Linked DNA regions of Homo sapiens. The protein of the gene in region 3 interacts with the protein of the main gene of each other region in a pairwise test. Each region holds a gene or a part of one and is shown on either strand. Other genes may lie near its edges. The genes, in order: SCAND1, PPIF, AGTRAP and SENP2.

Region 1 (6,354 bases), on a different chromosome or scaffold from region 3:
GAGTAGCTTCAGTAATGTAAATAATCCATTACTTCAACTAGTTCTGCTTTATTCCTACCACAGGCCTAAAATTTGGCAAGGAAGTTGAGCAAGCCTGGCGGCATAAGCCAGAGCTCACAAGAACTAGCCTATCTCTGTGAAGGTGTGCAGTAAACACTTCACATTAAAATGGCCCAGTAACTTGGACATTTTGGGAAGCCTGTACCCAAAGGGCAGGTGCAAGTTGGTGCCCATATTGGTATAGAGGTAGCCAGTTAAGTGAGCATTTAATAGAGCCAGCTATTTTGCGTGTAAGAAACCCAAGTGGGTCCTTGGGAGCCCAGGTGAAAAACTTCCCATGTGTGGTAGAGGGATAACCTAGGTTCAGTCAACATCTAAAGATCCCACTATAGCCAACGAAGGCCTTATTGTTACGGACTCCCAACTTCGTTTCGCCACCAGCCAGAAAGGCGGTAGGAAACAGGCTTGGTAAAATAAACCCAATAAGAACGAATGAAAGAGACACACCAGACCACAGGCGCTGCCAAAACTCATTTTTCATTAACACGGGGTGGGGTCCCAGGCTCAGGCCCCCGGGCCCGATCATGGCCCCAGTCCGCACAGAGCGCCCGGCCCTGGCCGCCCGCAGCTCCACCGCTCAGCCAGTGATGCGCACATCCGTGCGGCGGCGGATCCGCCGGGCCCGAGCCGCCTCGGGCAGGATGGCGAGCAGCTGCTCTTGCACCAGCATCTCCACGATCTGCTCCTTGGTGCGGATGTCAGGCCGCAGCCACTGGCGGGACAGCTCCCGCAGCTGCCGGAAAGCCTCCCGGGGACCCGCCGCATCCTGGTAGCGGAACTGCCGGAAACGCTGGCGGAACGTCTCGGGACCGAGTCTAGAGCCGGCGGGGCCTGGTGTGGAGCGCGCTTCAGCTTCGGCCTGAGGCGCTACGCTCACGGGTGCGGGCCCGAGAGGCAGCTCCAGGGCCGCGGAGGCCGCAGCTCGGGGCGTAGGGATGGCTTCAGGGACCGCGGCGTTGGGACTGGAAGGCTCAGGGGCAGGCGGTGAGGCCTCTGGCAGCGAGGAGCCCACACAGTTACGCTCAGGGGCTGAGCTCGAACCGGCTCCTTCCAGTTTCTCCGGTGGCACCGCCGCGGGACTCCCAGTGGCCGCCAAGATCGGCTCCGTAGCCGCCATAACTCCAGCTCCGGGCGTCACTCTTTGTCCGGTAGCTGTGTGCTCAGCACTGCGTCTGCGCGGGGGTGGGGTGAGCAGGGAGACGTTTCCGGTTAAAGGGCAGAGCTCGCGTCACCCTTGAGGGAGTCGGACTCGGGACCGGCCGAGAGTGTGCGGAGCTTACCTGCACCAGCGAAGCGCCTGCGGCAGCCGGAAGCGAAAGTCTCTGGCTTCTCTGCGTCCAGGTCGGCGCGCGAGCACCCGGAAGCCGCTTGCGGGCTCCCGGAAGCGGCGCCCTCTAGCGTTCTCGAGTCGCATGAGGCGGCTGCTGCCCTCGCGGTGCGGGAGGGCGAGCTGCGCGTGGCCTGGGCTCCTTCCGAATGGTGGCGCCTCTGAGCGCCAGTTCGAGGAGGAGTCGGAGGAGGAGCCTGAATGTTTGGAGATAGACTTCAAGTCCCGGACCTTATCCGTGCGCCGCTTCGGTTTGCAGGTGACCTTTGCGTGCGGGCGCCCCTTCTGATTGACCCTGATGAGCTGTAGCTCTGATGGCCCCTCCTTCGGGAATGATTAGGGTGACGGCTGGCCGGGGCTCGTTCGAGTGGCGCCCGGCCGGTGGTGACCCGAACAGGAGAGCGGGACGGCGACCATTCTCTCGGGAGGGGCCCATCTGGAGAAAGTCCTCTCGCTTGGTCAAACTAGGAGGGCGATAGCACCGGCCTTACTGCGACGATGACAAAGTACAACACACCGTCTGGCGCGAAGGAGATGCTCGAGAACCCTTTGCTGTTGTTATTTTTCGCGTGTCCTCCGAAACCAAGGGAAATGCGGCTCTGTGGGTTCTGTTAACGTCAGCATTTAATAAGTGAACTCTAAATGCATTGCCCCTTATGGTGGCCGCTGGCCTCCTGAGTTGACTCAGCTCTTGCAACGTAGCTAGTTGATAACCCTCGAAATATAGCGAATTGAGATGTGCTATATTGTAAAATACGGGACTTAGTACGAAAAAACTGATGTAAAAATTATCTCAATACTTTTTAATACTGATTACATGTTGGAATATAATGTTTTGCATATATTGGGTCAAATAAAAATGTTATTAATTTCACCTGTGTTTTTACTTTTTAAATGCAGCTTCTAAAAACATTTAAATTGCATGTGCAGTTTACATTATATTTCTGTTGAGCAGCCTTGGGTTAGAGTGTTGGAGTGAGGCTACCTTGGTGGAATCCCCTTTGACGATACCCAGCTCAGAGTTGTTAGGAGGATTAAATAAATTAAGCCGTTGGAGAGAAAGGGCTTTTAAGAAGTTTGCTCTTGTTTTTATTAGGTAAACTGCTTGCTATCTCTGAGCTACTGTTTTCTTATCAGTAAAATGTGGATGTAATAGAACTTACCTCTCAGAGGTAATTGAGAATTCAGTGAGATGATGTAGGTAAAAGCACGTGGCCCTGACAGCCCTCGGCCAGGTGGTTTTCTGTTTGGTAGCTGACTCACAAATAGTTTTGTTTTTGTTTTTGTTTTTGTTTTGAGACTGAGTCCTCCGCCTACCGGGTTCAAGCGATTCTCCTCCCTCCGCCTCCCGAGTAGCTGGGATTACAGGCGCCCACCACCACACCCGGCTAATATTTTATATTTTTGGTACAGATGGAGTTTCACCGTGTTGGCCAGACTGGTCTCGAACTCTTGACCTCAGGTGATCCACTCTCCTCAGCCTCCCAAAGTGCTGGCATTACAGGCGTGAGCCACCGTGCCGGGCCACAAATAGGTTTTATATCCTCATTTTACAGAAGGGGAAACTGAGGCCCTCAAAGGACAGGGGCCTCATATGAAAGGTTTTCTATGACCTTGCAGTCCTTTTGAGCCCGTGCAGGATGGAGGAGCAGGTTTAACAACCATTAACATGCCATTAGCCCTGATATAAAACTTACCCCTACCATAGGATGTTTCCTTTGGATGGGTAGAAGTGGACCCTCATGAAATCATTTCCATAGCCTGAAAACCTTGAAAGTCGTTGCAGTGGGCCTTTAATGTTTTTTAGTTGCTGACATGTAAAAATTGGGAGATTTCACATGCAAATCTGGATTTCTAATTTTTCTTGAAAAAACGGAAGAGCTGGCCACACTGGACCCAAATTCCTGCTGGTCAACAATCAGCTGACACTGAGTAGAGACGACTTCCTTTAGACAAGATACTCTGTCCCATTTGGTCTCAATCTCAACCATTCCCTATGGTTCTCTGAAATAGAATGTTGTTTGCATTTACTGTTGCTCTCAGGTTGTTGCTTTATTTAGAGTTGATATTTTTCTCTCTTTTCTTTTTAGAGGTGAGAAAGCAGGGTCTTAGTGTTTGTTATGCCTACTGGCTTCAAACCTTGACTTCTGTCTGGCCCCTCAGTAGTTGGGTTTGCTGCCCAGAGTGACCAACAGTGCTATTCCCTGTGTGGTAACAGGTACTCAGTTTCTAGGCCTAAGGGAGCACACTAACCCTTCTGTGGAGGCAAGAGGTGATAGAAGTCTTCACTGGGGAGGAGACTTCAAGCTGAGACTCAAGAACAAAATGGGTGGGGCTCAGGGACATTCCAGGTAGAAGGTACTGCCTGTACAAAGGCACATAGTGAGTAGGAGCAAAACTGTGGAAACTGCAGGCTATATGGGAAAGTGGTTGGGATCTGGAGAAGGGGTGAGAGATGAGGTTGGAACACTGGTGGGGGTTAAATCATAAATGTCCTAGAATTCCATGTTTAAAATTTAGTTATTATCTTCTTGTGAAAGGGAATGAACTTTTGTGGCACCTGGAATCATGAGATGTTATGTTAGATCTCTAGTCTATTTCTTCCATCCCTATTGAAATCGTGAATTATTAGAGATAGGAGGAGGGACCTGAGAGATCTATTAGAATCATTGAATGTCAGACTGGAAGGGCCCTTAGAAATGGAATTTAAAAATCCAGCCCTTTGTGGGCCGGTAAGCCTGCTTTAAAGTGATTCAGCAGTAAAAAAATAATGTGGAGGGAATAAATGAAACAAGATTGGCTCAGTAGTTGGCCGGGCGCGGTGGCTCATGCCTGTAATCCCAGCACTTTGGGAGGCATAGGCAGGCGGATCACCTGAGCTCAGGAGTTCAAGACCAGCCTGGGCAACATGATGAAACCCTGTCTCTACTAAAAATACAAAAAATTAGCTGGGCTCGGTGGCTCATGCCTGTAATCTCAGCACTTTAGAAGGCTTGAAAGATTGGCAGTATGTACACTCTACTTTGGTATATGCTTGAAAATGTCCATGATAAAAGTTAAAACATTCAGATTCCCAGAATCTGAAAAAAAACATATAATGCCTCTTCTTCGAAAAGGGATGCAGTTATCTACTTTCATGTAATTTACATATATCCTTGAACCCTCCCAGAAGTCCCAGATTAAGCTTAAAATATACATTTATATTTCATTCTTTTGAATTTTGCAGATTGAGAAACCAAGATGTCAGAAGATGAAGGATTGGTCCAAAATAAGAAAGCTAGTAAGTGGTTTCATGAGGACAGAAATCTTTTGACTTTTAGTCCAAACTCTTATCTTATTAGGCCTCTTTATCCCTAGATTGGGAGTTCACTTGGGAAGGGATCATAACTCATTCATCTCATATCACTTAGCTTCCAACACAAGGCCTGACTCCTAGGTAGCTTCAGTGTTGATTAAAGGAAAGAGGACAAATGTGGATTGCAGACCATCCCTGAGAAGGCAGAGCTCTCATATGAGTCCCAGACTCTTTCAGAGACCTCAGTGCCTTTTGATGGCACTTGGTTGTTGAGGGTTGTGGAAAAGAAGCTTGGATACTTATTTTCTTTTTTATCAGAGCCATCACACTGGAGAATACGTCTTTTAAAAAGCTTTTCATTGGCCAAGCATGGTGGCTCATGCCTGTAATCCCAGCACTTTGGGAGGCCGAGGCAGGCGGATCACGAGTTCAGGAGTTTGAGACCAGCCTGGCCAATATAGTGAAATCCCATATCTACTAAAAATACAAAAAATTAGCTGGGCATGGTGGCAGGTACCTGTAATCCGAGCTACTTGGGAGGCTGAGGCAGAAGAATCACTTGAACCCGGGAGGCAGAGGTTGCAGTGAGCTGAGATCGTGCCACTGCACTCCAGCCTGGGTGACAGTGTGAGACTTCATCTCAAAAAAATAAATAAGTTTTTTATTTGGAAATAATTATAGATTCATAGAAGGTTGCAAAAATAGTTCAGAGAGGTTTCATGTACCCTTCAGTCAGTTTTCCCTAATGGTAACATCTTGCATAACTATAGTACAATATCAAAACCAGGAAATTGACATTGGTACAATCCACAGACTTTATTCACATTTTCCCAGTTTTACATACATGCATTTGTGTGTGTGTGTGTGTGTGTAGGTCTATGCAATTTTATCGTGTGTGGATTAATGCAACTACTACCACAATATCTAGAACTGTCTGATCACCACAGAGATCCCTCGTGCTATCTCTTTATAATTGCATCCATTCATCTTCCCTTCCCCTATCCCTAACCACAGGCAACCACTAATCTATTCTCCATGTCTATAACTGTGTTATTTAAAAAATGTTACATACCTGGAATCATATAGTGTATAATCATTTGGGCTTGGCTCTTTCCACTTGGCACAATTCCCTGGAGATTCACCCAAGTGGTTGCTTGTATCAATAGTTTGTCCTTTTTATTGCTGAGTAGTAATCTATGGTATAGATGTACCATGGTATATTTAACCATCCATTGAAGGACATTTGGGTTGTCTCCACCTTTGAGCTGTTACAAATAGAACTGCTATGAGTTATTTTATGACATGGCTTTGGGTAATCACTTATCTTTCTGAGCCTGGAAATAGTAACTACCACACAGGATGGTTCTGAATAGTCGAGGAGGAGAAATATATATAAGGGAACTGGTGCAGGGTTTGGCACAGAATATATACTTCGTCATTTTTTTAAAACCGATGGTTATGAAGAGATAATACTTCCTTGAATATGTAAGTTCTAGTATGTAGTATTTTTAAAAGTCACAGGCATTGATATTATTATTAGTGTATTAGTCTGTTCTCATGCTGCTAATAAAGACATACCCAAGACTGGGTAATTTATAAAGGAAAGACGTTTAATGAACTCACAGCTCCACGTGGCTAGGGAGGCCTCACAATCGTGGTGGAAGACAAGGAG
Region 2 (5,403 bases), on a different chromosome or scaffold from region 3:
CTCTTTGAAGACCTTCCTGCCTGGAATTCTCTCCCCATTCCCTCCACCCTGACCCAGTGGCCGTCATCGTACCGTGGTAAGTGGCAGCGGGTTGGGACTGGACGTCTATGTGCGGCGAAGCCTGGATACGGGGTGAACACAGGGACGGCAGGCCTGGCCCAGCCCTAAGGCTGATGGTAAAGTAGGAGCTGAGGTGGAAGTCCTGAGCCAGGGTGGGAACTCCAGCGCGGGAGGGCTCCCTGGCACAAGGCGGTGGCACCGGGAGTCCAGACCAGAGTCCTGAGTCATCCGTTGGGAGGGATATCAATTAGGGAGCACCTAATTGACACCTGTGGATGCTTCAGCTGGGCTGGTCAGTTCCCCTCTCTTACCCACGGATCCCATCTCAGGAAAACAGCAGCCAGCCATGGCCTGGGCTGGGCAGCGCTAGGCATAGGGGCTGCTACCAGGCTCTTCTGGCCATGGGTGCCCCATGCAGGTTTGGCCACGGCTGCCTGGGCCTTAGCTGAGGCCTGAGGAAAGATGTCAGCCTTGGGCAGACTCTGTCCTGGGTCTGCAAGGGTTGGGAAAGCTGCTGGGCTGGGTAAGGGGCAGTGCGCGGACAGTGAGGGGACTCGGCCTGGGGAGCTGGTCTGGACCAGCTGCTGGTACTCCCACAGACTAGACTCGGGAACTGGGGGGCCTCTGGCCTCTTCCTTGTTGCCCTCCAGGAGGAGTGGGTTAAATTCTGGGTCACTAAGTATCATCTCAGAATGGCCTTTAGGTCTTTTGAAGATTACTTAAAAATTTGCTCAGACAAAAAGTAAGTCATTTGGAAACAAAGGTAGTTACGGTGACAAAAGATATTTAAGTTTTGTCTTTTTTTTTTTTGCTTATTATTCTTATTATTAGCTCTTATTTTATTGGATGTTTATTGACCCCTTTACCTGAGGGGCGCCAACTGGGTGGGCTTGGGTGGGCTGAGGCTGCTGCCAGCGCCAGGGCCGTGGCCCCCGCCTGCTCCATGGTAGCCACTCAGAAGGTGCTTTGTGCTCACAGGCGGGCGACTTCACCAACCACAATGGCACAGGCGGGAAGTCCATCTACGGAAGCCGCTTTCCTGACGAGAACTTTACACTGAAGCACGTGGGGCCAGGTGAGTGGGGGCCTCCTCTAGGGTGAGTGTCCCCACAGCTCTGACCTGGCCTGGAAGCCCCAGCAGGCCCTGAGAGGCCACATGCAGTCACCGTCCAGTATCTGATGAGTCTCCTTCCTCCCTGCGACACTGTAGGCTGTCTCAGCATTTCTGGCTTGTTGAGTTTCCCTAGAGTTTTCTCATCTCTCAGTTTAAAAAGCAGGGTTTCCTTTGGGAACTTTGTGGAAGAACCTTTAAGCAGAATGGAGGCCCTGGCCACCTCCCTGTTTGTCCTCTGAGTTTCGGGTTGGAAATTCTAGGACACTTAGAATTGTTGCAGAATGGTCCTTAGGTCCTTTGAGGATTATTTAAAATCTTGCTTAGATAAAAAGCAAATGGTTTGGAAGCCAGAGTGGTTATTGTGGCAGCATCGTGTCACCTATAAGACCCAAGGTAGAATGTGGAGATGTCTGGAGGTCAGGTCCTGGGGTCCTGCCCCAGGTCCCGCCCCAGCTCTACCACTGAGAGCTTCCACAAGGCCCTGTCCTCTCAGGCCACCCCACTGAGAACTAGCAGGCAGCAAAGGCAGGCATACCCTGGGGGGCTGGTATCGGGCCCTGGTTCTCCTCTTCTGGGTCCCAGGATCTGCAGACTCGAATGTCCCTGGTGTGGTTTGCACCGTCTGCCCTTTCAAATGCCCTCCCAGGCAGGTGCCTCCAGGGGCAGCGTGGCTCAGCCCTGCTGGTTTTTGCAGGTGTCCTGTCCATGGCTAATGCTGGTCCTAACACCAACGGCTCCCAGTTCTTCATCTGCACCATAAAGACAGACTGGTGAGTTCCCTGCCCCAGGCCCTCTGGGAATGCGGGCAGCCTTGCAGCTGGAGGAGGATTCGTGCACTTTTAGGGGCAGGCAGTTTACAGCCAGGCCTTCTGCTCTGGGACAGTGGCCCTCTCCCAGGCTGTGTGTTTGTATGAGAAAGAGAAAGTTAGTGGAAGGATCAAGGGAGAATTGGGGTTGTTCCTGCAACTCTGTCATGGTTCGGGTTCCCATTGTTGCTGTCACCTGGAATTTTCTGAGTGTGTTCTGCTCACACGCACACACGAAAGGGTTTCTCTACCAGATACATTTGGGAAATGTTGCAAAACATATTATGAGGCCTCAGGAGGGACTGAGTAGAAGCCCACTTGTGTGGTTTTAACCTGGAGTTTCCCAGGCTTGTCTTGACCATGGGCTGAGCCTTGGCAATGCTGCAGCAGACATTTGGATATCAGCAAATTTCCAAATGAAGCCTCTGTATTATCATAAACCTGCAGATAGCCACAGGCCTGTAAGGGCCCTGTTTTCAATGCCCATGGATTTTAGGGATGTCTCTTTCCTGGTACATTTTCCTCTAAGGGATAAATTTCTCTGGCCAGAGTCCCAAATGTCCTAGCCCTGGGGCACCTGGGGATGAACTGGCTGGGAGCTGACTTGGTAAAGCCCATTTCCGAGGATTTTAGGGAGACCTAGGTGGGGCAGACACTAGAAGTGTCCAGCCTCCAAGCCCAAGAGATGTGGCCGGCAGGGCTGGGCAGGTCCTTGCTGGCTCAGCCTGCTCTTTGCTCCTTCATGGGACCCCAGTGGATCCTGCAGTTCTGCTCTTGGCTGGAACCACGCCAGCTTCGCTGGAGCTGGACTGAGCCGCCTTTTACATTATTGGACTCTCTCGGGTTGAGAGCTGCCCAGGACTCCTGCAGTTTCACCACCCTTGTTCCTTTGACTCTTGACTCATCATTCATGACCGTTAACGTGGTTCCATTTGTATGGACTTCTTCTTTCTTCAGAGCATTTCAGTATCCTGTTACCTCCCCATGCAGAACAAAGAATACTCCACTTTTGATAGATGGGGTTACCAGGATTCAGGCTACATGGCCTGAGGCAAGGTCACAACATGAGTGACAGAATGTGTCCTGGAAGCCAGGCATCCTCTGGGGTGTATTTGGGGCGCTCAACAAGGCTTGATCGAGCTTTGGGGGTAGATCTAGCTATTCCATGGGGATTCTTTTCAGAATTGCTGTTTTCGGTAACTAATTCCATGACCAGGTCCATGGCATTGGATGACATTGCGCTACACTGTTGCTCACCCGGGTCACCCGTCCTCACAGGTTGGATGGCAAGCATGTTGTGTTCGGTCACGTCAAAGAGGGCATGGACGTCGTGAAGAAAATAGAATCTTTCGGCTCTAAGAGTGGGAGGACATCCAAGAAGATTGTCATCACAGACTGTGGCCAGTTGAGCTAATCTGTGGCCAGGGTGCTGGCATGGTGGCAGCTGCAAATGTCCATGCACCCAGGTGGCCGCGTTGGGCTGTCAGCCAAGGTGCCTGAAACGATACGTGTGCCCACTCCACTGTCACAGTGTGCCTGAGGAAGGCTGCTAGGGATGTTAGACCTCGGCCAGGACCCACCACATTGCTTCCTAATACCCACCCTTCCTCACGACCTCATTTCTGGGCATCTTTGTGGACATGATGTCACCCACCCCTTGTCAAGCATTGCCTGTGATTGCCCAGCCCAGATTCATCTGTGCCTTGGACATGGTGATGGTGATGGGTTGCCATCCAAGTGAAAGTCTTTTCCTTGACCAAGGGGGACAGTCAGTTTTGCAAAAGGACTCTAATACCTGTTTAATATTGTCTTCCTAATTGGGATAATTTAATTAACAAGATTGACTAGAAGTGAAACTGCAACACTAACTTCCCCGTGCTGTGGTGTGACCTGAGTTGGTGACACAGGCCACAGACCCCAGAGCTTGGCTTTTGAAACACAACTCAGGGCTTTTGTGAAGGTTCCCCCGCTGAGATCTTTCCTCCTGGTTACTGTGAAGCCTGTTGGTTTGCTGCTGTCGTTTTTGAGGAGGGCCCATGGGGGTAGGAGCAGTTGAACCTGGGAACAAACCTCACTTGAGCTGTGCCTAGACAATGTGAATTCCTGTGTTGCTAACAGAAGTGGCCTGTAAGCTCCTGTGCTCCGGAGGGAAGCATTTCCTGGTAGGCTTTGATTTTTCTGTGTGTTAAAGAAATTCAATCTACTCATGATGTGTTATGCATAAAACATTTCTGGAACATGGATTTGTGTTCACCTTAAATGTGAAAATAAATCCTATTTTCTATGGAAGACTGGTACCTGGTTTCTGGAAGAGGGGTCTGTGACTTGGAGCTGATCTTTACTGAGCTCGCCGTGGCAGATGCCATGCTCAGGACGTTCATGTGGATGGTTTCATGTCATCGTGCTGGCAACTTGTCCTCCCTGCCTTAGAGATGAGGCTCAGACAAACGACCTTAGCACCCATAGCCTATGCCATGAGCACTGGCTCCACCCTGAATCCCAGCTCCTCCCCTTAGTGACCCCAAGTCTGTTTCCCTCAGCTGCATAAGGAGGCGATATAGTTTGAATATTTGTCCCCAGCCAAATCTCATGTTGAACTGTAATCCCCAGTGCTGGAGGTGGGGCCTGCTACGAGGTGTTTGGATCATGGGGACGGGTATTTCATGGCTTGGTGCTGTTTTCTTGATGGTGAATTATTGCAAGATACGGTCATTTAAAATTGTGTGGCACCTCCCCCTGCCCCCTTCTTGCTCCTGCTTTCACCATGTGACATGCCTGATCCCCCTTCACCTTTTGCCATGGTCATAAGCTTCCTGAGGCCTCCCTGGAAGCTGAGCAGATGCCAGCACCATGCTTCCTGTACATCCTGCAGAACCATAAGCCAATTAAACCTTTTTAATAATAAATTACTCAGTCTCAAGTATTTTTTTATAGCAATACAAGAATCCTAACACGGGTTAACAATAAGGCCCACCTCGTAGGGTGGTGATCCACGTGAAGTGCATAACGCAGTGTCTGGCGCACCTTCCTAAGCACTCTGGAGTGACAAGGATGATGACCTTTCCCCTGTCAGGGTCTTAGGAAGGAGGAGGGATGCCAGAGCAAAGGAGCCTCCATCATCTGAGGTTAGGAGTGGACTTCCTAGGATAAGCCAGTTCCATTTGGAATTGACTTCTAGGTGTTTCCAAATTCACAGGGAAGGCAGGATTGGAGGTAAGAGCTTCCCTAGGTAGACAGGGCTGTGGTGTGGCCCGGCAGTTGAGTGGTCAGGCAGGCAGTTCTCAGAGGAAATTTGGGCCCTTTTGAGGGCATCTAACAGAATTATTTCTCACTGGGGTTCCCTGAGTGAGGTTATGTGTAGTCTTAGGTTAATGGAGTCACTCTGAGGTCATGGTGACTGGGGTCGGGTCATTTGGAGTCATG
Region 3 (5,171 bases):
CTGGACGTGTCAGCCCAAGTCAGCTGTGACCAGACACAGGGGCTACCAGGAAGAGGTCGCCCCTGCCTCCTAACCTAGCATCGTCACTGGCCTGAGGAGCAGGTCCACTGCTAACAAGTTCACCATCACTTAGGGAGCCCTCCTCACGCCAGGCACTTCACACCTGGAGCAGGCACCAACCCTTTCTAGAAGACACTGAAGGCATGCAGCTAGTAAGTGGCAGAGCAGGATTCCAAAGAGTGCCTGGGTCATCTGGTTCAGAGAAACGGATGCCCACGCACCACACCCACCAGTGTCTCTCTCTCCTGTGGCCTCTGCTAGGCCAGAGCCAGGCTCAAGCCCAGCTCAGCCAACGCACATGCCTGTTTCCTCCTGCCATGACAGAATGGGGCAGCACAGCACAGGCTCCACCTGGGAACTGGCAGGAGACATCTTCCCAGGAACAAGGCCAGGCCCCAGCCCAGCCAGGAGATTGAAGGTGGTTCAAAACACAGCCCATCTACAGAATTCCCCAAACTTTAATGCTGTGCTCTGAAAAGGGAGGCTGGAGGTTGTGGTGGGACACAGTGTTGCTGACACCTCTGGCCTCCAGCCCTGCATCCCTAGGCACCATGTGACCAGGCAGTGAGAAGGACGGGGCCTCACTCCCATGCCAGACTGCTCCTCGGGCTGAGCAGGACCTGAAGCTCTCAGGGCTTCCACCAAAGCCCAGCAAACTTGGGGGAGGCCTGAGGGGGCATCAGCAGTCCTTAAAGGCCTGAGCTTGCAACACTCAGGCAGGACTCGGCTGAGGGCCTCTGTGGTGCCACCATGGGGTAGGAGGTAAAGAGAGACCCTGGTTCCAGCCTGGGAACCAGTGGGTGCCCTGAAGGGAGGGGAGGCCTCAGGGAGTTCGGGACAGGAGTGTGCATGGTACTGGGCGGCCCATGGGGGCTCCTGGCCTCTTGGTTCAGGCAATCCCTGAGCTGGGGACACATTCCATCTTAGGTCCAAGAGACGGAGGTCAGGAGCATCCCTAGAACGACCTCCCAGGCACGAGGAAGGCCCGGGGCAGGGCCGGGCGCAGCGTGGCTGGCTTCAGTACCCTCGGGCATCTTGACTCCTGCCCTCTGGGACTGCAAAGGGATCTGCGGGCGCCTCTGCTGAGTCAATCGTCTGGTAGGCACTACGGTCCTGAGAAGACCCAAGGAAACCTAGGTGACAGGGGACATGGTGGGAAAGAAAAATGAAGGGTGAGAACTCGGGATGTTCAGCTGAGTCCAACCCAAGATCCACCCCCGCCACCCTCGGGCTGGGCATCCTGACACCATGCACAGAGACAGAGGCAGCAGCCCCAGGCCCTAAACCTTTAGCGTGTATTATTCATTCAATCCTGCCGTATCCCTGTGCGACGGGTATTTTTATTGTCCCCACTTTACAGATGAGGAGACTGTGGGTCAAAGGGATGAAGTGACTTGCCCGAGATCACACAGCTCAAAGCTGATGATGCTGGGACCCACGCCTAGGCAGCCGAGTCCAAAGCCAGGCTCCTGGCCCCTGTGCCATGGGCTTCCCCAGGCAGCACGTGCTTAGGAACCTGGGCAGAGGGACATCAGCCCCGGGCCCACGCACTCCTCTCCAGCTCCCCTCCCAGGTACAAGGACACCACATTACCATATCCAGATGGCCTCGGAGGCTGGGGCTGGGTCCAAGGCAGGGCCGTAGGGCTCCGAGTACGCCACATGCCTCACTCCCATCCCCTACTCTGTACATTCATCCCGGGACCCTGAACAAGTCCCAAAGGATGTGGGCCTCAGTTTCCTCATCTGTCCAATGGGAGAAACATTCTGGCACCCCTCACCTGGGGGCAGGCCCAGGCAGTGCTGAGGTCAGCCACTGTGGGCAGCCCCAGGCCATTCCCACCCTCAACCAGCTGGTGGCAGTCACAGGCCACGTGGGGCATCTCATCTCAGGAGTGAAAGGCAGAAGGCCACACCCTACCACCTCCCTCCACTCCTCTCAAAGAGAGAGAGAAAGGAAGAGAGAGAGAGGTGTCAGAGAGCAGGCAAATGGCTCGGCCACCAGGAGAAGGAGTACAGGAGTTCAGAGAGGGCGTGGGAGAGGGCAGGTGTAAGGCTGGGTGAGTGGGGAGGGGCCGGTGGGCAGGGAAAGTGCCCCCTGTTCAGGGCTGTCTTCACTGAGGCTCCCACAGCCTACACTGGCACGGGCTCTGCCCTGGCCACCTAGCAGTCTCTGCAGCAGGAGAGGGAAGACCCCATGTGGCAGGAAATGGGGTTCCAGTGATGGGCCCCGGTGAGAACAGAGAGGAGACCTGTAGGTGCCCGTGGCCCTCAGGATGGAGACAGCCCAGGGCTGCCCCTGGGAACTAAATGGTACCCCCAGCTGTGCCTGTGTTCTGGGCTGAGAGAAGGGCCCAGCCTCAGCTTCACAGCAGAAGAAGGTCACGGCAGACCAGGACAACCAGGGGACCCCTGGGCTCCTGCAGCAGAGACTAGGAGCTTGGACCTGTCCAGCCTAGTACAGAGCGCCCATGCCACGCTCTCCCTGCACCTTGAGCCCTGGCCCCATGGGGCAAGGCTGGCTCACTGAGGGAGAGGCTGGAGGCCAGGCAAGGGAGAGAAGGGAGCGGTGAGGAGCTGGCTGGAGGTGGTGGCCTCACCAGTGTGGACCAGGAGCTCACCCCCGCGCTCCCGGTACATGTGGTAGACGAAGCAGCAGGAGAGCGGCTTGAGCAGCAAGCTGAGGATGGCCATGCCCACGCCAAAGCGGCCCGTGTCCGTGAGGCTGACCCGCGGGTAGAAGATGCTGATGTGCACGATGTCCAGGAAGATGGTGGCCAGCAAGCCACCCAGAAACTGCAAGACACACCACACTGATGAGCACAACACCCCCACCACGCTCCGTGGCTCCCCCGCCACACACCGGATGGGAAGCCGTTTCATGCCCTGCTGTGTCCTTGGGGCTTGCGGGAAAATGGATCAAGCAAGCAGGCAGGGCCCCGCTGGGGAGCCGCTGGCTGAGACTGCAGTCTGGGGGCAGGGATGCCGGGGGCCCAGGTCTCGGTTCCACCAGAGCCTCCCTCCCCACCCATTTCCCGTCATCTCCAAGGCCATGATGGGCACAAGACTTGGCTCTAGAACCTCCATAGAGGAAGGTTCCTTGGAGTTCACCCAGTCCTTCTCCAACACAAAGAAAATCTCTTCTCAGTCATCCTGAGGCCCTGGCCTCGGCTTGAAGAGCCCGTGCGGGAGTGCTCACTGCCCCACGGGGCTCCGTGGGTGCTGAGAAGCTCCCCCTGTGGGAGGTTTCGGTGGGGCAGGGTCACCTCTACTTCCTAAAGTAGTGAAATGCCCTCTTGGCCGGGTCTCCCAGCCATATCCCCTCCCCTAAAAGAGAGCCGCAGAGGGAGGTTACAGGGGATGTTCCACTGCTCTTGCGAAGTGGCTAATCCGAGGCACTGGTGGGACCCACCCCATGGCTTTCCTCAGGGAGATAATGGCAGACTTGGGGTTCTCTAAGCCAGACAAGAAGAGCAGCAGGCTGGGCTCCTGAACACAGGCATGGGCCGGAGCCCAGGAGGCTGATGAACAGGCTTTAGACAATGGGAAGTGGTGGCCCAAGGAAGAGGGGGAAGATTGGGATGGGACGGGGTAGCAGAGCCAGGCTATGTCTTGCCCTGTGCTGCGGCTCCCCGCCTTGCCGCCTCTCCCCCACCCTGGCTCACCATGCTTATGGCGTCGATGGAGTCCCGCTGAGCCACAGCCCACACGCCCAAGGCCAGGATGGTGAAGTTGGCCCAGGCATAGGAGCCTGAGAATACAATGCAGCCCCTGTAGGAAGAGGTAGCTCAGTCCCGTCAGGAGGCCACCACCCCGCAGGTCACCTCCCTCCTGCTCCGGCGTCTCAGGGCCTCCTCCCAGAACATGCCATAGTCTTCGAGGCCACCCGGCTGTGTGCCAGCAAATCCCATGGGCTCCGCCTCCCACCCAGACCCTGGATCTGGCTGTGTCCCTGTAGATCCAAAGCACCTCCCTCTCCTGGCAGATGACAGCCGCAGCCACCCTGTGCCAGCGTCCTGACTGCCACTCTGTTCTCTAAACAGCAACCGGTAACGTAGTCAGATGCTGTCACTCCTCTGCTAAAAATCCTCCAACAGTTTTCTGTCCCATTTGGAATAAAATGCAGACTCTTCACCAGGGCCTAAGGGGCCTGTGGGATCCCGGACACAGCCTCGCCCTACTGACCTCCCAGCCACTGCCCTGTGCGGCGGGCGCCCTCTACCCTGACACCTGGCCCTCCTTTTGTCATTCACCCTGAGACTCGAATGTTCACCCTGAGACTCCTTCCCTTGCCCACCGGTGCTAAGTACAAGTTCGTCACTTTCCTAACACAAGGCCCGCCCTATTCTATTTTTAGGGTACTGATACTGACATTGTTGACTTACTTGTCAATCCAATCAAAATCATAGTGAACACCGATCACTTGCTAGTACCTAGCATGGTTCTGTTTTAAATTAACTCATTCATGTACATTTATGTTAATAACCATAGGAAGGAAGTATTATTGTTACCCTCACTTTAGAGATGAGGAAACTGAGACACAATGAGGTTAAGTAACTCGCCCAAGGTCACACAGTTGCTGAGCAGTGGGGCTGGGATTTGGAGTCTGGCTGGAGAGGCCATGCTCTTGCTCACCCTGCTGTGCTGCAAGGAAGACTCAGGGGGACAGGGACTGAGTCTACCTCATTTATTACCAAACCCACTGGGCCTTGCCTTCCCCTGCATGCAGCGGGCGCTTCCTAGATTTATAGGACATTCACTAAAGTGTAACATGCAGAAGACATGTGCAAGGCAGGTGTGGAGTGCCATTCGGTTCAATAGGTCTTTGAATAAACCATCTTATCTTTTGCTTTTAAGAAAGCAGGTGCCTGGGTCCCAGCCCAGAATCACCAACTCAGAATCTTGGGGAAGTGTGACTAAGAAATCTGTATTTTGGCCCTGCTTCTCAAGGTCGTGAATCATGATGGTTACAGTTCACATTACTCACAGCTGTTGCCCTGTGCGCTGCACTTCGAAGTTTGCAAAGTGCACAGGTGAGCTCAATGGTTTCCAGTCTTGGTTTGGCAGAGAAATGTCTCCAGAAGCTCAACAGATTAAAAGAGATGGTAAAGG
Region 4 (7,037 bases), on a different chromosome or scaffold from region 3:
TTTTAAACATCTAAGATAGAACAAGACTATCCCTCTAGTGGAGATGTGTTAGAAGATCTTAGGCTGGGCACGGTGGCTCAAGCCTGTAATCCCAGCACTTTGGGAGGCAAAGGCGGGCAGATCACTTGATGTCAGGAGTTCAAGACCAGCCTGACCATCATGGCGAAACCGTCTCTACTAAAAATACAAAAATTAGCTGGGCGTCATGGCACACACCTATAATCCCAGCTACTCTGGAGGCTGAGGCAGCAGAATCGTTTGAATCCAGGAAGCGGAGGTTGCAGTGAACCAAGATGGCACCACTGTACTCCAGTCTGGGCAACAGCGTGAGACTCCATCTCAAAATAAATAAATAAATTAGCTGGGCCTGGTGGCACATGCCTGTAATTCCAGCTACTTGGGAGGCTAAAGCAGAAGAATCGTTGGAACCCGGGAGGTAGAGGTTGCAGTGAGGTGAGATCACGGCACTGCACTCCAGTCTGGGTGACAGAGGGAGATCCTGTCTCAAAAAAAAAAAAAAAAAAAAATCTCAGGCTCACCCTTCCTTGCCACCAAAAATAAAAGGAAAGGGTAGGTTTCAGTGCTTTCCTCACTTCCTCCTTTTATTACACTACCTCTTTCTCACTTTCTATATATCTGATGTAAGCTTTCTACAATATCCTATGTCCTAATTAAGGGTATTTGAAGACGCTAGTTTGAGAAAAACAGAACATCACATTAGCCATTCTGCTTTAGAGAAAGATAGACTGCAATGGTAGCTTTTAAGCAGTGCTCCAGAACATGTAAACTACTTTCCAGAAACATAGGGGAATAACAAACAAAAGGGAAAAAGTAATGGCCAGGTAAAGCACAATCCAATTTGAGAAATTTGCTAATAGTTATAAGTACCAAACTATGCAAATGAGTTGTTTTTCATTTTAGGAATCAGAGAATTCCAGGTTATCCCCTTCTAATAGTGCTGAGGGATAGTACACACTCTGCTGCACTTTCTAAGGAGGAGAAGAAGAGCTTTAGCGATTGATGCTTAACCCACAGTCTGTCATCCAGACTCTAGAGGACAAGAAGCCTCTTGGTAACATAGCAAATTGTGGCTACTAAACAATATCATAATATTTATTTTCCTACGAATGTTATCAAAATCTCGGTATGCCCCTGAGATTATGTCAAAAGATCTCACTGATTTTTTTAAAAAACAGAAGGCCTGCCTCATCTGTAAAATGGGGAAAAGATCACCTTACTTCCCTGAAACTAGACTACATAGATCTCTTAAAATCTCTTTCACCTTTAAGGTCATGAGCCTGAGCCAGGTACGGTGGCTCACACCTGTAATCCCAGCACTTTGGGAGGCCAAGGTGGGTGGATCACTTGAGGTCAGGAGTTCAAGACCAGCCTGGCCAACACGGTGAAACCCTGTCTCTACTAAAATACAAAAATTAGCTGCACTTTGGGAGGCCAAGGAGGGTGGATCACTTGAGGTCAGGAGTTCGAGACCAGCCTGGCCAATATGGTGAAACTCCGTCTCTACTAAAATATAAAAATTAGCTGGGCATGGTGGTGCACACCTGTAATCCCAGCTACTCAGGAGACTGAGGCAGGAGAATCGCTTGAACCTGGGAGGTGGAGGTTGCAGTGAACCGAGATTGTGCCACTGCACTCCAGCCTGGGTGACACAGCGAGACTCTGTCCCAAAAAAAAAAAAAAAAAGATCATGAGCCTGAAATTCTGAGGTCTTCTTTCTTTTCTTTTACCCTTGCTTTGCTTTTTTTTCTCTCAAAAGCAACCAATGGAGTTGTACTGTCCAACACAGTAGCTAGTAGCCAGATATGGTTACCTAACTTAAAGTTTTATTAGAATCAAATAAAGTTTAAAATTCAGTTCCTCAGTTGAACTAGCCACATTTCGAGTGCTCAACAGTTATCACTGCAGGAAGTTCTCTTGGGCAGCACTTTACAGGCCTTTACAAACTCTGCTACCCACCGCTTACCCTTTGGTTTAGATTCCCTTCTACAATTTGCCATTCAGAAAATCATACTACATATTTAATGGGAATGATGCAATAAGTGATCCTTAACATAGAATCCATAAAACAGATGATTGTCCTAAATAATTAAGTCAGAAACCTTCTGTAATACCAACGTTTGTGTGTGTTTTTTTTTTTTAACCACATCCAAGTACAAGCTATTTATATTTTTCTTTAAAACTGACTTCCTTTTTTGGCTTAAAAAAAAAAGATAATTTTAAATTACTACTGTATATGTAAAGCCAACATCACCTGCCTTATAAAGAAATGAAAACACAGCCGGGTGAGGTGGCTCACGCCTGTAATACCAACACTTTGGGAAGCCGAGGCGGGCGATCACTTGAGGTCAGGAATTCGAGACCAGTCTGGCCAACATGGTGAAACCCTGTCTCTATTAAAAACACAAAAATTAGCCGGGCATAGTGGTGGGCGCCTGTAATCCCAGCTACTCGGGAGGCTGAGGCAGGAGAATCACTTGAACCTGGGAGGTGGAGGTTGCAACAAGCCAAGATCGCACCATTGCACTGCAGCTTGGGCAACGAGAAAGAAACTCCGTCTCAAAAAAAAAAAAAAAAAGAAATGAAAACACAATAATACTAAGTTCTAGTTGGGCCTGTTAAAAAATGGGAGATTAGCATATATTAGACAAGTATTGAAGATATACTAGCATTAAATCAAGATTTTCTGTGTGAAATAAACAGGATGTGAGCACCTCAAATAAATAACTGAAAAGGATACACCTTTCTTAGTACATAATCATCATTCAAATGTTACATAATGCTGTGAATGTTGAATCCCCTAAAATCATTTCCTAAATTGGTATCTATCCTGTGCTTTGGGAAATACTGTTCTAATGAATTTAGTATAAATTCCTGTCATTTGAAAATCCTTGGCCGGGGATGGTGGTTCACGCCTGTAATCCCAACATTTTGGAAAGCCAAGGTGAGAGGATCACTTAATTAAGCCCAGGAGTTCGAGATCAGCCTGAGCAATATAGCAAGACCCTGTCTCTATTAAAAAACTAAACAAAACAAAACAGAACGATAATTTGATCTACCTGTCTTCAGCCATTTTTTTTCCCTGAGCTCTATTCACTATTTCTTGAATTTACACAACTTTCCCATACTATTCCCTCTGCCTAGAATATTTTTCCTTCCTATTGCTCTCCTTTGATATCCTATCCATCCTTCAAGACCTGGGCTAACATACTAACTCATACTAACTCCCGCAAACATTTACTGAGACTCGATGAGCTGAAAATTGGATAGGATTTTGTTACTATCTTTGTTTTTTTATTTTTTATATTTTCATTGACATTAGCATTATTATGTGATTGTCTTATACCCCCTACCATATTATCATATAAGGTCCTTAAAAATGGAGACCCAGGCCGGGCACGGTGGCTCACGCCTGTAATTCCAGCACTTTGGGAGGCCAAGGCAGGTGGATCACTTGAGGTCAGGAGCTTGAGACCAGCCTGGCCAACATGGCGAAACCCTGTCTCTACTAAAAATACAAAAATTAGCCGGGTGTGGTGGTGGGCACCTGTAGTCCCAGCTACTTGGGAAGCTGAGGCAGGGGAATCACTTGAACCTGGGAGGCGGAGGTTGCAGTGGGCCGAGAATGTGCCATTGCACTCCAGCCTGAGCAACAGAGCAAGACTCCATCTCAAAAAAAAAAAAAAAGGAGACCCTGTCTTACTAATTTTTGTATTTTCTGTAAAACCTAACACATTGGTTAGCACTGAGACATGCTCAATAAGTACTCACTGAATTTAAACGAAATATTAACACAAATATGTCCACACTCAATTACCACATCTGGAGGTAGACCCAAATTTATAATCATTTTTGAGAAAGAGGAATATATTATTATAGCATTTTACTATGCCTTTTTCCTTTAATCTACTTTTATTTTCTTTATCCATTCAGATATACTGAAGTAAAAGACTTGGCTGGGCACAGTGGCTCATATCCATAATCCCGGCACTTTGGAAGGGCAGGAGTTCCAAGATCAGCCTGGGCAACATATGGAGACTCAGTATCCACATACAAAATAATTTGCCAGGTGTGGTGGTATGGGCCTATAGTCCCAGCTACTCAGGAGACTGAGGCAGGAGGATTGTGTGAGCCCAGGAGTTTGAGACTGCAGTGAGCTACGATCGTGCCACTGCACTGAAGCCTGGGCAACACAGTGATACCCTTGCCTCTTACAAAATTAAAAAAAAAAATTGTTGATGACAAGATCAAGACAGAGCAAGATCCTGTCTCAAAAAAAAAAAAAAAAAAAAAAAGAAATATTACCGGTTCTTAAAGACAGGAGTATTCTTTCAAAATGCCACTGCTGCCTATTTTCAGCCTGGACAATGTGGCAAGACCCTGTTTCTACAAAAAAAATACAAAAATCAGCTAGGTGTGATAACGTGCCTGTAGGCCCAACCAACTACTTGGGAGGCTGAGATGGAAGGATCACCTGGGCCCAGGGAGGTGGAGGCTGCAGTGAGCCATGATTATGCCACTGCATCCCAGCCTGGGTGACAGAATGAGACCCTGTCTCGAAAAAAAAAAATAGAAAAGATGGGTTCCCTCAGCCATCTGAACTAGAGTCACCTCAGTTTGAAACATTTACAACATTTCCTCCTTAAAAATAAGTAGGGCCAGGCGCGGGGGCTCACGCCTGTAATCCCAGCACTTTGGGAGGCTGAGGCAGGTGGATCACGAAGTCAGGAGACTGAGACTATCCTGGCTAACATGGTGAAACCCCGTCTCTACTAAAAATACAAAAAATTAGCCGGGCATGATGGCGGGCGCCTGTAGTCCCAGCTACTCAGGAGGCTGAGGCAGGAGAATGGTGTGAACCCGGGAGGTGGAGGTTGCAGTGAGTCGAGATTGCACCACTACACTCCAGCCTGGGTGACAGAGCGAGACTCCATCTCAAAAAATAAATAAATAAGAAGTATCTTTTCTTTGTAGAATGATTTAGAATTTTAAAATGCACAGTCTACACCTAGGCTTATTTACCTGCAAGGATTAGACAAGTCCCTGGTAACAGTAGTTACCTCTAGAAAAGATAAGAAAGGGATAGGAAAGAGACTTTCTTGGGTTGGGTGCGGTGGCTCACGCCTGTAACCCCAGCACTTTGGGAGGCCGAGGCGGGCAGATCACGAGGTCAGGAGATGGAGACCATCCTGGCTAACACGGTGAAACCCCATCTCTACTAAAAATACAAAAAAACTAGCCAGGTGTGGTGGTGGGTGCCTGTAATCCCAGCTACTCGGGAGGCTGAGGCAGGAGAATGGCGTGAACCTGGGAGGCAGAGCTTGCAGTGAGCCGAGATTGCGCCACTGCACTCCAGCCTGCGACAGAGCAAGACTCTGTCTCAAAAAAAAAAAAAAAAAAAAAAAGGAGACTTTCTTTTTTTTTTTTTTTTTTTTTTTTGAGATGGAGTGTCGCTCTGTCGCCCAGGCTGGAGTGCAGAGTGCAGTAGCAGATTCTTGGCTCACTGCAACCTCCGCCTCCCAGGTTCACGCGATTCTCGTGCCTCAGCCTCCCGAGTAGCTGTGACTATAGGCGTGCACCACTTGGCTAATTTTTTAATGTTTAGTAGAGATGGGGTTTCACCATGTTGGCCAGGCTGGTCTCAAACTCCTGACCTCAAGTGATCCTCCCACCTCAGCCTCTGAAGTGCTGGAATTAAAGGTTTGAGCCACCACGTCGGGCCAGGAAAGAGACTTAAGTTTTTTTGTTTTTTTTTTTCCTGACACAGTCCTGCTCTGTCGCCCCAGGCTGAAGTGCAATGGCACCATCTTGGCTCACAGCAACCTCCACCTCCCAGGTTCAAGCGATTCTCCTGCCTCAGCCTCCCGAGTAGCTGGGATTACAAGCTCCTGCCACCACAGCAAGCTAATTTTTGTATTTTTAGTAGAGACAGGGTTTTGCCATGTTGGCCAGGCTGGTCTCAAACTCCTGACCTCAGGTGATCCGCCTGCCTTGGCCTCCCAAAGTGCTAGGATTACAGCCACTGCGCCCGGCCAAGACTTACTTTTTACCAGATACTTTTTACCTTTTGAATTTTGTTCCATGCATATATTTTTCCTATTTAAAAACTAAAAATTTTTAAAATTTATATTCAGTACCTAATCTTGGTCTTTTGGCTGGTATTTCATCAGTGTCCACTGTAGAAAACAGAGTGCTGAAAAAGAGAAAGAAAAAAATATATATATATAGATTTACACACACATTCATTTCTGTAAGTAAACTTACTATTCATATAACACATCCCCCTTCTATCACTTTGTCATAAAATGAGATCCAACTGATGTTTTAAAAGAGAATGCTGGTGGGACACAGTGGCTCGTGCCTGTAATCCCAGCACTTTGGGAGGCCAAGGGGGAGGATCGCTTGAGCCTTGGAGTTTGACATCAGCCTGGGCAACAAAGTAAGACCTCATCTCTACGATAAAAAAATAAATAAAAAATTAGCCAGCCTTGGTGGTAAGTGAGTGTGGTCCCAGCTACACTAAGGCAGGAGGATCACTTGAGCCCAGGAAGTAAGGCTGCAGTGAGCCCAGGTCATGCCACTGCACTCCAGCCTAATCAAAAGAGTGAGACCTTGTTTTAAAAAGAAATAAAACTAAAAATAAAAGCAAAACAAAAGAGAGAATGCTATTCTATAGTAGGCTTTTCACATGCGAAGACTTACTGCTACAGTTTCAACTATTTGAGAGAGAAACAAACTTCTTACCAAATAATAATTTGCCATCTGGTTAAAGTACAAACTTAAAACTGGCCAAAGTCACTTAGCTAGTAAATGAACCCAGGTAAGAGTTTAGGACAGTATTTTCTCTTTCGCTCCAGAAATGATTTAAAAACAACAAACAAGCAATTTCCTTTTGAAAATGATCCCCAAAGAAAGCCATCTTTTACTTTAGGTGACAGTATTAATATGAACAGCCTTAAAAGACAATTCTTTTTTACTGTTTTTTCTTTTGTGTGTGTGTAAGGGAGTTAAAAAAAACT

The links.
Region 1: the proteins of AGTRAP (region 3) and SCAND1 interact in binary tests that used the Homo sapiens proteins (3 or more experiments, as listed by UniProt).
Region 2: the proteins of AGTRAP (region 3) and PPIF interact in binary tests that used the Homo sapiens proteins (3 or more experiments, as listed by UniProt).
Region 4: the proteins of AGTRAP (region 3) and SENP2 interact in binary tests that used the Homo sapiens proteins (3 or more experiments, as listed by UniProt).

What each region holds. Positions count from the first base shown.
Region 1 is NC_000020.11:35,953,108-35,959,461, forward strand, and holds SCAND1 (SCAN domain-containing protein 1), read right to left. Parts: upstream 1,396-6,354; 5' UTR 1,341-1,395; exon of another isoform or gene 1,233-1,340; 5' UTR 1,178-1,232; coding exon 638-1,177; 3' UTR 517-637; downstream 1-516. Other genes in the region: CNBD2 (cyclic nucleotide-binding domain-containing protein 2), read left to right, coding at 1,473-1,646, 4,614-4,667. UniProt on the Homo sapiens protein: May regulate transcriptional activity.
Region 2 is NC_000010.11:79,350,449-79,355,851, forward strand, and holds the end of PPIF (peptidyl-prolyl cis-trans isomerase F, mitochondrial precursor), read left to right. Parts: intron 1-1,038; coding exon 1,039-1,135; intron 1,136-1,868; coding exon 1,869-1,944; intron 1,945-3,196; coding exon of another isoform or gene 3,197-3,258; coding exon 3,259-3,394; 3' UTR 3,395-4,886; downstream 4,887-5,403. UniProt on the Homo sapiens protein: PPIase that catalyzes the cis-trans isomerization of proline imidic peptide bonds in oligopeptides and may therefore assist protein folding. Involved in regulation of the mitochondrial permeability transition pore (mPTP).
Region 3 is NC_000001.11:11,746,099-11,751,269, reverse strand, and holds the end of AGTRAP (type-1 angiotensin II receptor-associated protein), read right to left. Parts: intron 5,144-5,171; coding exon of another isoform or gene 5,047-5,143; intron 3,831-5,046; coding exon 3,725-3,830; intron 2,856-3,724; coding exon 2,660-2,855; intron 1,194-2,659; coding exon 1,078-1,193; 3' UTR 501-1,077; downstream 1-500. UniProt on the Homo sapiens protein: Appears to be a negative regulator of type-1 angiotensin II receptor-mediated signaling by regulating receptor internalization as well as mechanism of receptor desensitization such as phosphorylation.
Region 4 is NC_000003.12:185,589,288-185,596,324, reverse strand, and holds part of SENP2 (sentrin-specific protease 2), read right to left. Parts: intron 6,212-7,037; coding exon 6,156-6,211; intron 1-6,155. UniProt on the Homo sapiens protein: Protease that catalyzes two essential functions in the SUMO pathway.